Linked DNA regions of Homo sapiens: regions 1, 3 and 4 are each linked to region 2. Evidence: fine-mapped expression QTL. A gene starts in region 2. Each other region holds a variant in brackets. All regions are shown on one strand. Distances are from middle to middle.

Evidence for each region. PIP is the estimated chance that this variant, and not a neighbour inherited with it, causes the effect. A credible set is the group of variants that fine-mapping cannot tell apart.
Region 1: its variant is the best candidate, but not a certain one, in a credible set for the expression of RUFY4 in whole blood (TOPMed, PIP 0.68).
Region 3: its variant is the best candidate, but not a certain one, in a credible set for the expression of RUFY4 in whole blood (INTERVAL, PIP 0.77).
Region 4: its variant is the best candidate, but not a certain one, in a credible set for the expression of RUFY4 in blood mononuclear cells (TOPMed, PIP 0.86).

The regions. Positions count from the first base shown.
Region 1 is chr2:218,128,493-218,130,992 of GRCh38, reverse strand. It overlaps CXCR2 (C-X-C motif chemokine receptor 2), which reads right to left. Exons shown (of 3, transcript NM_001557.4): 2 at 1,628-1,679. Among named protein-coding and RNA genes, the nearest start is that of CXCR2, 3.7 kb to the right of the region's middle. The variant G/A (reference allele first, on the strand shown) is at 1,313.
Region 2 is chr2:218,067,625-218,070,367 of GRCh38, reverse strand. It overlaps RUFY4 (RUN and FYVE domain containing 4), which reads right to left and starts at 1,115. Exons shown (of 13, transcript NM_198483.4): 1 at 1,020-1,115; 2 at 810-887. RefSeq lists an enhancer at 503-1,366.
Region 3 is chr2:218,029,396-218,032,138 of GRCh38, reverse strand. It overlaps a transcript of TNS1 not described here. Among named protein-coding and RNA genes, the nearest start is that of TNS1, 28 kb to the right of the region's middle. RefSeq lists an enhancer at 1-490. The variant G/A (reference allele first, on the strand shown) is at 1,698.
Region 4 is chr2:218,033,709-218,036,451 of GRCh38, reverse strand. It overlaps a transcript of TNS1 not described here and a transcript of RUFY4 not described here. Among named protein-coding and RNA genes, the nearest start is that of TNS1, 32 kb to the right of the region's middle. RefSeq lists enhancers at 117-206, 1,062-1,594, 1,595-2,128 and a silencer at 1,219-1,268. The variant G/A (reference allele first, on the strand shown) is at 1,394.

The sequences.
Region 1 (2,500 bases), 61 kb before region 2:
CCAGTGCTCAGCTGTGCTGGGGGTGGGCTGGAGGTGTATGGGTGAGCTCATGCTCCCAGGCATTATGGGTCAGCTTCAGGTTCCAGAGGGAGAGCATGCAAGTCAGGACAGAAGGTAGAGAACTCAGCAAGGAGAACCAGGTCAGGCCAGTGACCTCCAGCTCCTAGGGTAGGGAGAGGGGTGTTTGTTGTTGGTGTTGTTTTTTAGTTTACCAATCTCTACAGAGGATGACTTGGCAGTTAGAGGGACAAACTAAGGGAAGGAGATGACACATCTGAGGTCTGCTTTGTGCCTCACAGGTACATGATCTCCATGGCTCATTACAAATAGATACAATTAGGCCCTGTTTCTAGAAGACTGAGGCACAAGGAGGATCAGCTGACCTAACAGGGAGGCTCAGTAACCAGCCTGCGATCACAGGGTGGAGAAGTGGTGAAACCACTGTTCCAGTGAGGTATAAAGGACTACACTTGCCTTATTTGTAGTCTATAGCCCTTCCTCTTAAAAAAAGTGCACCTCATCTATTAAACATATTTGTAAGCTAAGTTCTCTTTTTCTTTCTTTTTTTCTTTTTTTGATGCAGTCTCGCTCTGTTGCCAGGCTGGAGTGCAATGGCGTGATCTCGGCTCACTGCAACCTCCACCTCCCGGGTTCAAGTGATTCTCCTGCCTCAGCTTCCCAAGTAGCTGAGATTACAGGCGCCTGCCACTGCACCCGGCCAATTTTTGTATTTTAGTAGAGACGGGGTTTCACTATGTTGGTCGGGCTGGTCTCGAACTCCTGACCTCAGGTGATCCGCCCACCTTAGCCTCCCAAAGTGCTGAGATTACAGGTGTAAGCCACCGTGCCCAGCAAAGCTAAGTTCTTGAGATATCATTAAATCAACCTGTATATGGTCCACTCACATTCTTTCATGTTTTATGCATTGTTTTCTTTTGCCGTTTCTTTGGCCCAGAATGAAAGAAACAGCTCTTGCAGGGATGATAAACCAAACACCCTTGAACTGGCTGGGTCCGGCTGACCACACAGTCATATATTCCAGGATAAAAAGGGAGCTTCCTTGACTTAGGGAAAATGCCAGCCCCTTAGTGACTCATGGTAGTTTGGAAACTCCATAGATGATGGCATGAATTCTAATTTATTACATGAAAATGCTATAGAACGAGAGACATTTACAAGATCTCAAACATCTAAGGCAATCTTTTTAACAACAAAAGAGTCATTTTAGTACAGTTCCAGTATTCTTTCTCTCTATAAATATAATCCACAAATATTGCATTTAGTGTCGGGAAGTGGGAAGCGAACAGTGTTC[G/A]GCCCATCCTCAGACCCAGTCCTAGCCCAGGCCAGGAGGGCTGGCTGAGTCTTGGAAGGCTGCCAGGCCAAGGGAAAAGCATGGGCAGCAAGTGGCCCTGAGTGGTTGGAGAGGGTTGTGAGGGAGGAGGAACAGAAGTTCTTCCTTTGGGGATGGAGAGCCCCAAAGGGAGAAAATGAAGAGGCCAAGGGGTGAGGGTGAGGGGCCCACCAAGGGTGGGGAGAGATGCTTAGGATAAATGTAGGCTGGGTATCAAGGGAAACAGAGAACAGAGACATTCTAGCTGGTGGGAAGGGTGGGTGTTCCAAGACTTACTGGGTCGCTGGGCTTTTCACCTGTAGGACACCTCCAGAAGAGCAGCTGTGACCTATGAAAGGGAGGTGGTGGTGAGAACACAGTGGAGGAAGTGAGTGGTAGATTAGATTGCTCAATGCAATTCAGGGGTGGAGCTCCTGAGGGTGCGGGTGATTTTGATAACTTTGAATAATTAGTTCCCAGATCAGCTCTCGGATGCATAGTCATTTCATAGACTCGTAGAGTTTATATTGGGAAGGGACCTGAGGGGTTTTCTACCTAGTCTTTCCATTTTACAGATGGGGAAACTGAAGCCCAAAGGAAATGGCTTGCCCAGGATTGCATGGATTTCTTTCATCTTTGCTGTATCTCAGAGCCGCTGGCTCCTTCAGCTGCCTTGTCTGAGTCTCCTGGCATTCCAGCTGCCTCAGGCTTCCCCATCATACCATTGGCAGTACTATAGCCTTCAATGTCTTTCACATGTCAAAGGGAGCAGTGCATTAAAATGACAGAGATGGACTAAAGCTTCTGGTGAGTCTGGTGGCGTTCCTCCCTGGACCTGATGCCTCTACTTCTTGGCCCCACTCCTGCCTCTTGTCTTTCCCCTCACTCCCCAACCATCTGCTCTGACCACAAGTCCATCTCTGGGTATTGATATTCTTTCTTGTTTCGCACACTTGGCATTGGGTCTGAGGACACCAACTCTGCAGCAGCTTACCACCCTTGGAGCCAAGACCCTCTAATTTGGAAAGAAAGCCTTTTGGTAAAAGGGAAGATTCCACCAAAGTCCAAATGCATTTTTAAAAACAATGTTAAGTGACCCTAAGAATGTATTTTATCAATTTGCTATTGATTACAAATGAATGAATTAATCCAGGCAGAGCCATGAACACT
Region 2 (2,743 bases):
ACGACACTGTGCTAACACTTGATGTCCTTGTCCCATTCAATCCTCACATAATCCTGGAGGTTATTAACTCCATTTTAGACCAGGAGAAACAGGGGATTGGAGAGGGTAAGTCTTTTATCCAGCATCACAGAGGTACCCAGGACTTGAACTCAGGTGTCTGTGCCCACAGGGCCTGTGTTCTGGGTCCTGACTTGGTGTGAGTGACCCCGTGAGGGCTCATGATATGTGGACACTAGGCTGGGGGTGTCCACTCCTTCCCCATGGAGTGCCCCTAGCCTTGCCTGGGTACTCAGTCTCCTCGAGACACCTACTCATCCTTTCCTGTGCCCCAGCTGAATGGAAAATATGTGTTCTTTGAGGAGAGGGTGCAGAAGTAAAGCACGGCCCCAGGGCTGGGGCTGAGCACATGCTGCGTGTGTGTGGGGAGCAGGGCGCCTGGTTGTAATACTGCCTTTCTCTCCAGGGGGATCTCATCCTCTTCTCCTCCCCATGGGTCCTGGGGCCCAGAGAGGGACACTGTGGCCCTGACAGCTGGTGGCCTTATTCTGAGATCCTAGAGTCAAGACCAGGCATGGAGCGGAAAACCCAGGTGTCCTGCCTCCCGGGCTGTGGCTGTTGGAGTTTGGGGTGGGGTGGCAGTGGTACAGCAGTGGGACACAGTGGAGGGAAGGGGAGAGGGAAACGGAGGTAAATGAGGGAGGTGGGTGGAGCATGGGATTCAGGGAGGACGGGGTCAGGAGTCCAGAGACCTGGGTCTCCATCCTGGCCTGGCTATGAACTCACTGTGTGATCTCCGGCAAATCACTCACCTTCCTTGAGCCTCAGTTTCCCAACCTGTAGACCAAAGATTGGACTGATGGTCTCGGCAGCCCCTTCCAGCCCAGATCCTGTGTGAAATCCATGAACGGCTCCATGTGTCTCCTCCTCTCCCTCGTCTCTGCCAGGCATTTTCCTCCCCTGGCTCCTGGCATCACACTCCTTCTATCCCCGTAAGTTCCAGGGGTCTCCCTGCTACTCACCCAGGAGAGCCTGGCTGGCTGGGGCACGAGAGCGCAGCTCTGCTGCCAGAGTCCGTCCCTAGTGACTCTGCCTTGCACAGCAGTCCCAGGATTTACAGCCTGGGAAGAAGTAACTCAGTCCCAGCCCAGCAGCCTGGAGGGGGAACCTGGCTCACAGCGGTGGGGGAACCGCAGACGCTGCAGGGAAGAAGTGGTAGAGGCAGGATCCAGGGCGCTGGGGCAGAATGGTGAGATGGGGGATGGGTCCTCTCAGGCCCACCTGGGGTAGAGTCACCTGTTGGCCAAATGGGGGCTGATCCATTGTGGTAGCTGGGACTGCTGCTAGTTTCCTTTTCGTTTTCAGCACCTGCTCTTGCTTTTCTCCTTCTCACCACCAGGGGGCAGAGGGAGGCCATGGAGCTCCGCAGCTGCTATTCCTGTGGTTGTCTCGTCTCTGTCACTTGGTTGGGCTGAGAGGCAGCGCTCCAGAGTGGGGAGGGCAGGGCGAGGGTCCCACCACGCTCCTCCTTCCTTCTCCACCTCAGTCAGCTGAGCGGTCCACCTGAGTGCTGGTCACCAGTGCCGAATCCCTAGTCCTGATCTCATTCCCAAAAGGATGGATGTGAGACCACCAGTGAGATCCTGTGCCCAGCAATGGGCCAGGTGGGTTTCCCAGGTGGGCTGGGGCTTCCCTTCCTGGCTGTGCTCTGCCTCCTTGAGGCTGGGGTCTTTCCATGCTGGGTCCTCGTTTCTCCAGGCTGGGCTGCTGCAGGGGCTAGTATGGGGGCAGAGGAGCAGGGGCCTGGGAGGACGGCTGTTTTCACAAACCCCAGGAACCGCATCTAAAAACCAGCACAAGGGATGCCCCAGCCCGTCTGCCCTCTCCTCCGTCCCTATATCCCCCATGCAGAGGCTGAAACCCCCATCTCTGTCTCCCGTGTCATGTCCCTGTCTCCCATCCCTGTCTTTCCCTCATTCCTTCCCTTTCTCTGTTCCCTGTGTCTCACTTTGCACCCTTGGTCTCTTTCTTGCCCTCCCAATTCAGTCTGTCTGAGGCCCTGTCCAGGATCCCTGCCCCTGCGCTCCTCCAGCACCCTGCCCTTCTCCAGCCCCCTGCCTCCCTCCAGTCCCCTGCCCTCCTCTAACCCCCTGCCATCCTCCAGCCCCCTGCCCTCCTCCAGTCCCCTGCCCTCCTCTAACCCCCTGCCATCCTCCAGTCCCCTGCCCTCCTCCAGTCCCCTGCCCTCCTCCAGTCCCCTGCTGTCCTCCAGCCCCCTGCCCTCCTCCAGGTCTGAGCTGGGAGGCAGGTGTCTGCCAGGGAACCACTCTGCCTGGTACAGGTGTGGCGCTGGTTTCTCCCTGGGAGAGTAAGAGGAGGTGTTTGGCATCACCAGGGATGGGTAACTCCTCTCTAGGTCCCTGTGACCTCAGGACTCCCTGTTGGTGGGTCTCCTTGCTTCACCCCATGTCCCTGCCTCCCCACCTCCCACACAGCCAGCTTTGACACGGATGAGGGGGTGCCTGTTGGGCCAGGCTAGGGTGGGCAGGAGCAGGGACAGTCAGTGGGGCTGGGATGGAGCGAGGTGCCAGGGGCAGTGGAGGTGGATGATCAAGGCGAGAAGGAGGGGAAGGTGTGTGTGCTGGTGTGCAACAGTGGCAGGGACAGGGATGGGGATGAGTGTCTATCTGCATCAGATGAGCTGGTTTCTAAGCGGCCTCTTGGGAGAGCCTGGAGCTTGCCTGTG
Region 3 (2,743 bases), 38 kb after region 2:
TCCCACAACTGCCCTACACCCTGAGCCCTCCTATGGTCCCACATGTCAGCCTCAGGAGCAAGAGGTTGGGGCTTGGCACCCTCCTGAGTCCTCCAGCCAAGCCTTCTGGGTGCCAAGGGGCCTGGCGGGCATCTCCGGGTGCCAGTCGTGCCTCCTTGCTCTCTGCTGTATCCCAGGACAAGTGGGTGCTTGTGGATGGGGCGGGAGCAGTGGGGAGGAGACTCCTGGCTGCTGTTGCCTCTTCCGTTTCTGCAGTCAGCTCTTCTGGGCTCTGCTTCTTTCAGCCCGGAGAACTACTGAGGTTAGACGTTCTCCTGGGGCCTGGTCCTGCAGCCTCCCCTGCATTCCTGTTGTGGGGCCTGCAACCCTTTTGGAAGTTCTAGGATCTGGTCTGACTCCCTCCCCCATGGGTTGGATGACCTCCTCTTCCTCTCTTTCTTGTTATGTAGAATCAGAGACCCCAGAGCTGAAAAGGATCTTAGTGCTTCTGAGCCTTTTGAGGACACAGATCCCTTTGAGAATCTGATGTAACCTATGGGTGCTCTTGCTAGGGAGAAGGTGCACACACACACAGACACACACATACACTCATACACACAGGCACACACACACTCACACAAGACACACTCATACACACAGACTTGCTCACACACAACACACACTCATACACTCACACACACAGACATGCTCATACACACATGCACACACACACTTATACACACAGGTGCACTCACACACTCACACAAGACATTCATACACACACAGACATGCTCACACACAACACACACTCATACACTCACACACAGACATGCTCACACACCCACACTCATACACAAAGACACACTCACACACTCATACACGCTCACACACAACACACTCATACACTCACACACAGACATGCTCACACACTCACACTCATACACACAGACACACTCACACACATACAGACACATTCACACTCACACAAGACACTCATAGACATGCTCACACAACACATACACACACACACACAGACATGCTCACACACACTCATACACACAGACACGCTCACACACTCACAAACACACACATACACTCACACATATGCTCACATGCTCACTCACATACACACACATACACACATACACTCCCACACTCACACTCATACATACACTCATACACACAGTTCACACACATGCTCACACACATACACACTCATACTTATGCTCACACACTCATACCCATGCTCACGCATACATGCATACACACACGCTTACACACAGTCTCACACACACACTGACACACACAGACACACAGCCACTGTGCAAACATACACAATGTCATATATTTCTTCAAGCCCCACTATAGCCCTGATTTATCCACCCCGTGTATTTCAAAACAGCACACTGAAGACCAGAGGGGGCGTCCTCAGTGTGACTTGCCCAAGGTCACACTAGAAGTGAGTTTCAGTGCTGGGACCACATCCCAGGAGTCCTGGGTCCAGACAAGTGAGGGTTTCATCCCCAGATGCAACTTTTGCTTTCCCCAGAGGCTGCCTGTAAGCCAGATGCGCTTGGCCATTCATTTATTCAACACTGATTCAAGCATTTTTGAGCATCTGCTATAGGCCAGGCATGGAGCTTGGGGCTGGGGATAGGGCAGAAAGCAGACAGCTCGGGTCCTTGCCCTCAGGGGGTTGTCAATCCAGTGGGAGAGAT[G/A]GAACAGACTGCAAACAAGTCATTGAGCTGACTGGAGACAGTGCTATGGAGGCTAAGTTCAGGATGTGATGGGTGAGGATTCCAGAGGGATTGCACCGGGAAGGTGAAGGAAGTGACATCTGAATGAGGAGCTGAAGCAAGAGCAGCTGGGAGGAAGAAGCATTCCAGGTGGTTGGAGCAGCCGACTTGAAGGTCCCAGCATGGAGAAGAGCCGGGACCTGTTATAGAAGTGGACAAAGGCTTTCCTGGCTGCTCCTGGCTCCCCGGGAGCCCTAGCACACATGCTGTGTGTATATGGATTGGGAGGGAGAGAGTCAAAGCAAGGTGCCTGGGAGGCAGGGCAGGCAGGGAGGTGCCCGGTGGTCAGAGTTAGAGACGGTCAGCCAGGGAGAGGGCTGAGTGGGGCCATGACTAACTTGGGAGAAAGGACTGGACATGGAGATGGCTTGGATGTGGACGAGGAGCAGGAGGAAGTTGAAAATAACCCCTCTCATCTCACAGAGAGGGTGGCTGTGAAGGCATTTGTCTGTATTAGTGTGTTGAAATATTTCCTAAACACAGAAAAGTGTACAAACTTCCCACTGACTGAACACACGCACGTACTCACATACTTGGCATGCAGAGTCTAGAAACAGAACAGTGACAGCTCTCAGAATGTGCCTCCTGCCCCTTCCAGTCACTAATCCCCCTTGGAGGGCAGTGCGCAATCCCGACTTCTAACCACAGGGAGTTACTTGTTCTAGAATGTCTAATAAATGAATGGCACTTGTAATCAGTGGAGCACATCATATGTATTCTTTTGTGCTCAATATCATGGTTGTGAACTTTATCTATATTCCTGGGTGTGGTCTTGAGCGTTCCTTCTCATTGCTGGACAGCGTCCCACTGTGTGAAGACACGCTGTCCATTTATCCATTCTGCTATTGACAGGCGTTCGAGTCATTTCTAGTTTTGGGCTACTGTGAGTAGCACTGCTAAGAACACTTTCATGCATGTGTTTTGAAGATCATGAAGCCAGATTTCTGTTTGGTATATGTGTCCCTCCA
Region 4 (2,743 bases), 34 kb after region 2:
CACCCCCTGTTTTAATTTAACCCAGTCGTAGGATGCTAGATAATGTGATTCCTTGTGACTTGGACTGTGAGCCCAGGAAGAACCCTGAGTCTCACTGCCCAACTCTCTCCTTACACAAAGGAGGATGCAGAGCCTCCTTTGTGTAAAGTCCAGAGAGGGAAAGACTTATATCTGGCCACACAGCAAGGGAAAATCCCAGCTCTATTTTGTAGGCCAGGGTGTGAAGATGATGGTGTGGCCTCCACCGATTGAGCAGTCCCTGGGCGACGACACTGTGCTAATTGTTTAATATCTTTGTCCCATTCAATCCCCACATAACCCTGGGAGGCTAGAGGGGAACCTGGGGCACAGAGAGGGTAAGTCTTTTATCCAGCATCACAGAGGTTCCCAGGATTTGAACTCAGGTGTGTGTGCCCACAGGGCCTGTGTTCTGGGCCCTGACTTGGTGTGAGCAGCCCCGTGAGGGTTCATGCCATGTGGACACTAGGCTGGGAGTGTCCCCATGTTCCCCATGGAGGGCCCCCAGCCTCACCCGGGTACTCATCCTCCTCGAGACACCCACTCATCTTTTCCTGGGCCCCAGCTGAATGGAAATGTGTGTTCTTTGAGGAGAGGTTGCAGAAGTAAAGCGCGGCCCCAAGGCTGGAGCTGAGCAGATGCTGCGTGTGTGGGGGGAGCAGGGTGCCTGGTTTTAATACTGCCTCTCTCCTGGGGGATCTCATCCTCTTCTCCTCCCAATGGATCCTGGGGCCCAGACGGGGACACTGTGGCCCTGAGAGCAGGTGGCCTTATTCTGAGATCCTAGAGTCAAGACCAGGCATGGAGCGGAAAACCCAGGTGTCCTGCCTCCCGGGCTGTGGCTGCTGGAGTTTGGGGTGGCGTGGCAGTGGTACAGCAGTGGGACACAGTGGAGGGAAGGGGAGAGGGAAACGGAGGTAAATGAGGGAGGTGGCTGGGGCATGGGATTCAGGGAGGACGGGGTCAGGAGCCCAGAGACCTGGGTCTCCATCCTGGCCTGGCTACACACTCACTGTGTGATCTCGGGCAAATCACTCACCTTCCTTGAGCCTCAGTTTCCCCACCTGTAGACCAAAGATTGGACTGATGGTCTCGGCAGCCCCTTCCAGCCCAGATCCTGTGTGAAATCCATGAACGGCTCCATGTGTCTCCTCCTCTCCCTCGTCTCTGCCAGGCATTTTCCTCCCCTGGCTCCTGGCATCACACTCCTTCTATCCCCGTAAGTTCCAGGGGTCTCCCTGCTACTCACCCAGGAGAGCCTGGCTGGCTGGGGCACGACAGCGCGGCTCTGCTGCCAGAGTCCGTCCCTAGTGACTGCGCAGGGAAGAAGTGGTAGAGGCAGGATCCAGGGCGCTGGGGCAGAATGGTGAGATGG[G/A]GGATGGGTCCTCTCAGGCCCACCTGGGGTAGAGTCACCTGTTGGCCAAATGGGGGCTGATCCATTGTGGTAGCTGGGACTGCTGCTAGTTTCCTTTTCGTTTTCAGCACCTGCTCTTGCTTTTCTTCCTTCTCGCCACCAGGGGGCACAGGGAGGCCATGGAGCTCCGCAGCTGCTATTCCTGTGGTTGTCTCTTCCGTGTCGCTTGGTTGGGCTGTGAGGCAGCGCTCCAGAGTGGGGAGGGGAGGTCGAGGGCCCCACCACGCTCCTCCTTCCTGTCTCCACCTCAGTCAGCTGAGGCGGTCCCCCTGAGTGCTGGTCATCAGTGCCGACCCCCCAGGCCTGATCCCATTCCCAAAAGGATGGATGTGAGACCACCAGTGAGATCCTGTGCGCAGCAATGGGCCGGGCGGGTTTCCCCGGTGGGCTGGGGTCCCCCACCCTGGCTGTGCTCTGCCTCCTTGAGCCTGGGGTCTTTCCATGCCGGGTCCTCGTTTCTCCAGGCTCGGCTGCTCCAGGGGCTAGTATTAGGGAAGTGGAGCAGGGGCCTGGGAGGACGGCTGTTTTCACAAACCCCAGGAACCGCATCTAAAAACCAGCACAACGGATGCCCGAGGGTTTCTATCCTCGGCTCCGTCCTGCACCTATATCCCCCATGCGGAGGCTGCTTCCCCCATCTCTGTCCCTCATCTCTGCCTCTTCCTCATTGTCTGCCTTTATCTTCTCCCTGTCCCTCTGTCACGTTCTTGGTGTGTTTCTCACCTTGCCCCCCAAGTCAGACTGTCTGAAGTCCCTGTCCCAAGGACTCCACCACTGCCGCCCTCCCTTCTCCCCTCCCTGAGGTGGGCTTCCTCACTGGCTGTGTTCGGGACCTGTATTGCAGACCCTTATCAGGCCCCACAGTGGGGGCTCCTGTCGCTGCTGGACATAAAGGCAGGGACTCTGTCGGGGCCAGGCTGGGGTCGTTGCTGCTCGCCTGCCAATGTCGCAGGCGCTCTGGGCTGAGCTGTCGCAAGGGCTGGGGGCGGGCCGGCTTCTGGGGCTCCCGCGTCTCCGCCCCTGCCCGCCGGGGCGCCAGGCCGGATGGGCTGCACTGTGAGCCTGGTGTGCTGCGAAGAGCTGCGGCCCGGACCACTCTGCGGTCCCCAGCCCCCGGGGAGTCCCTGGGTCTCGGCGCGGGCTGAGTGCTGGGAGTCCGGGGGTTTGGCCTGTGCAGAGAGAAGGCAGCTACCGCTTCAGGTAGGGGCTGCGGGAATGGGTGAGGGACGACGCCCCGAGTCGGGAGCTGGCGGTTGGCAGAGCCCAGGGCACCTGACACAGGTTAAGTAGCCAGCCCAGGACGGTGCTAGT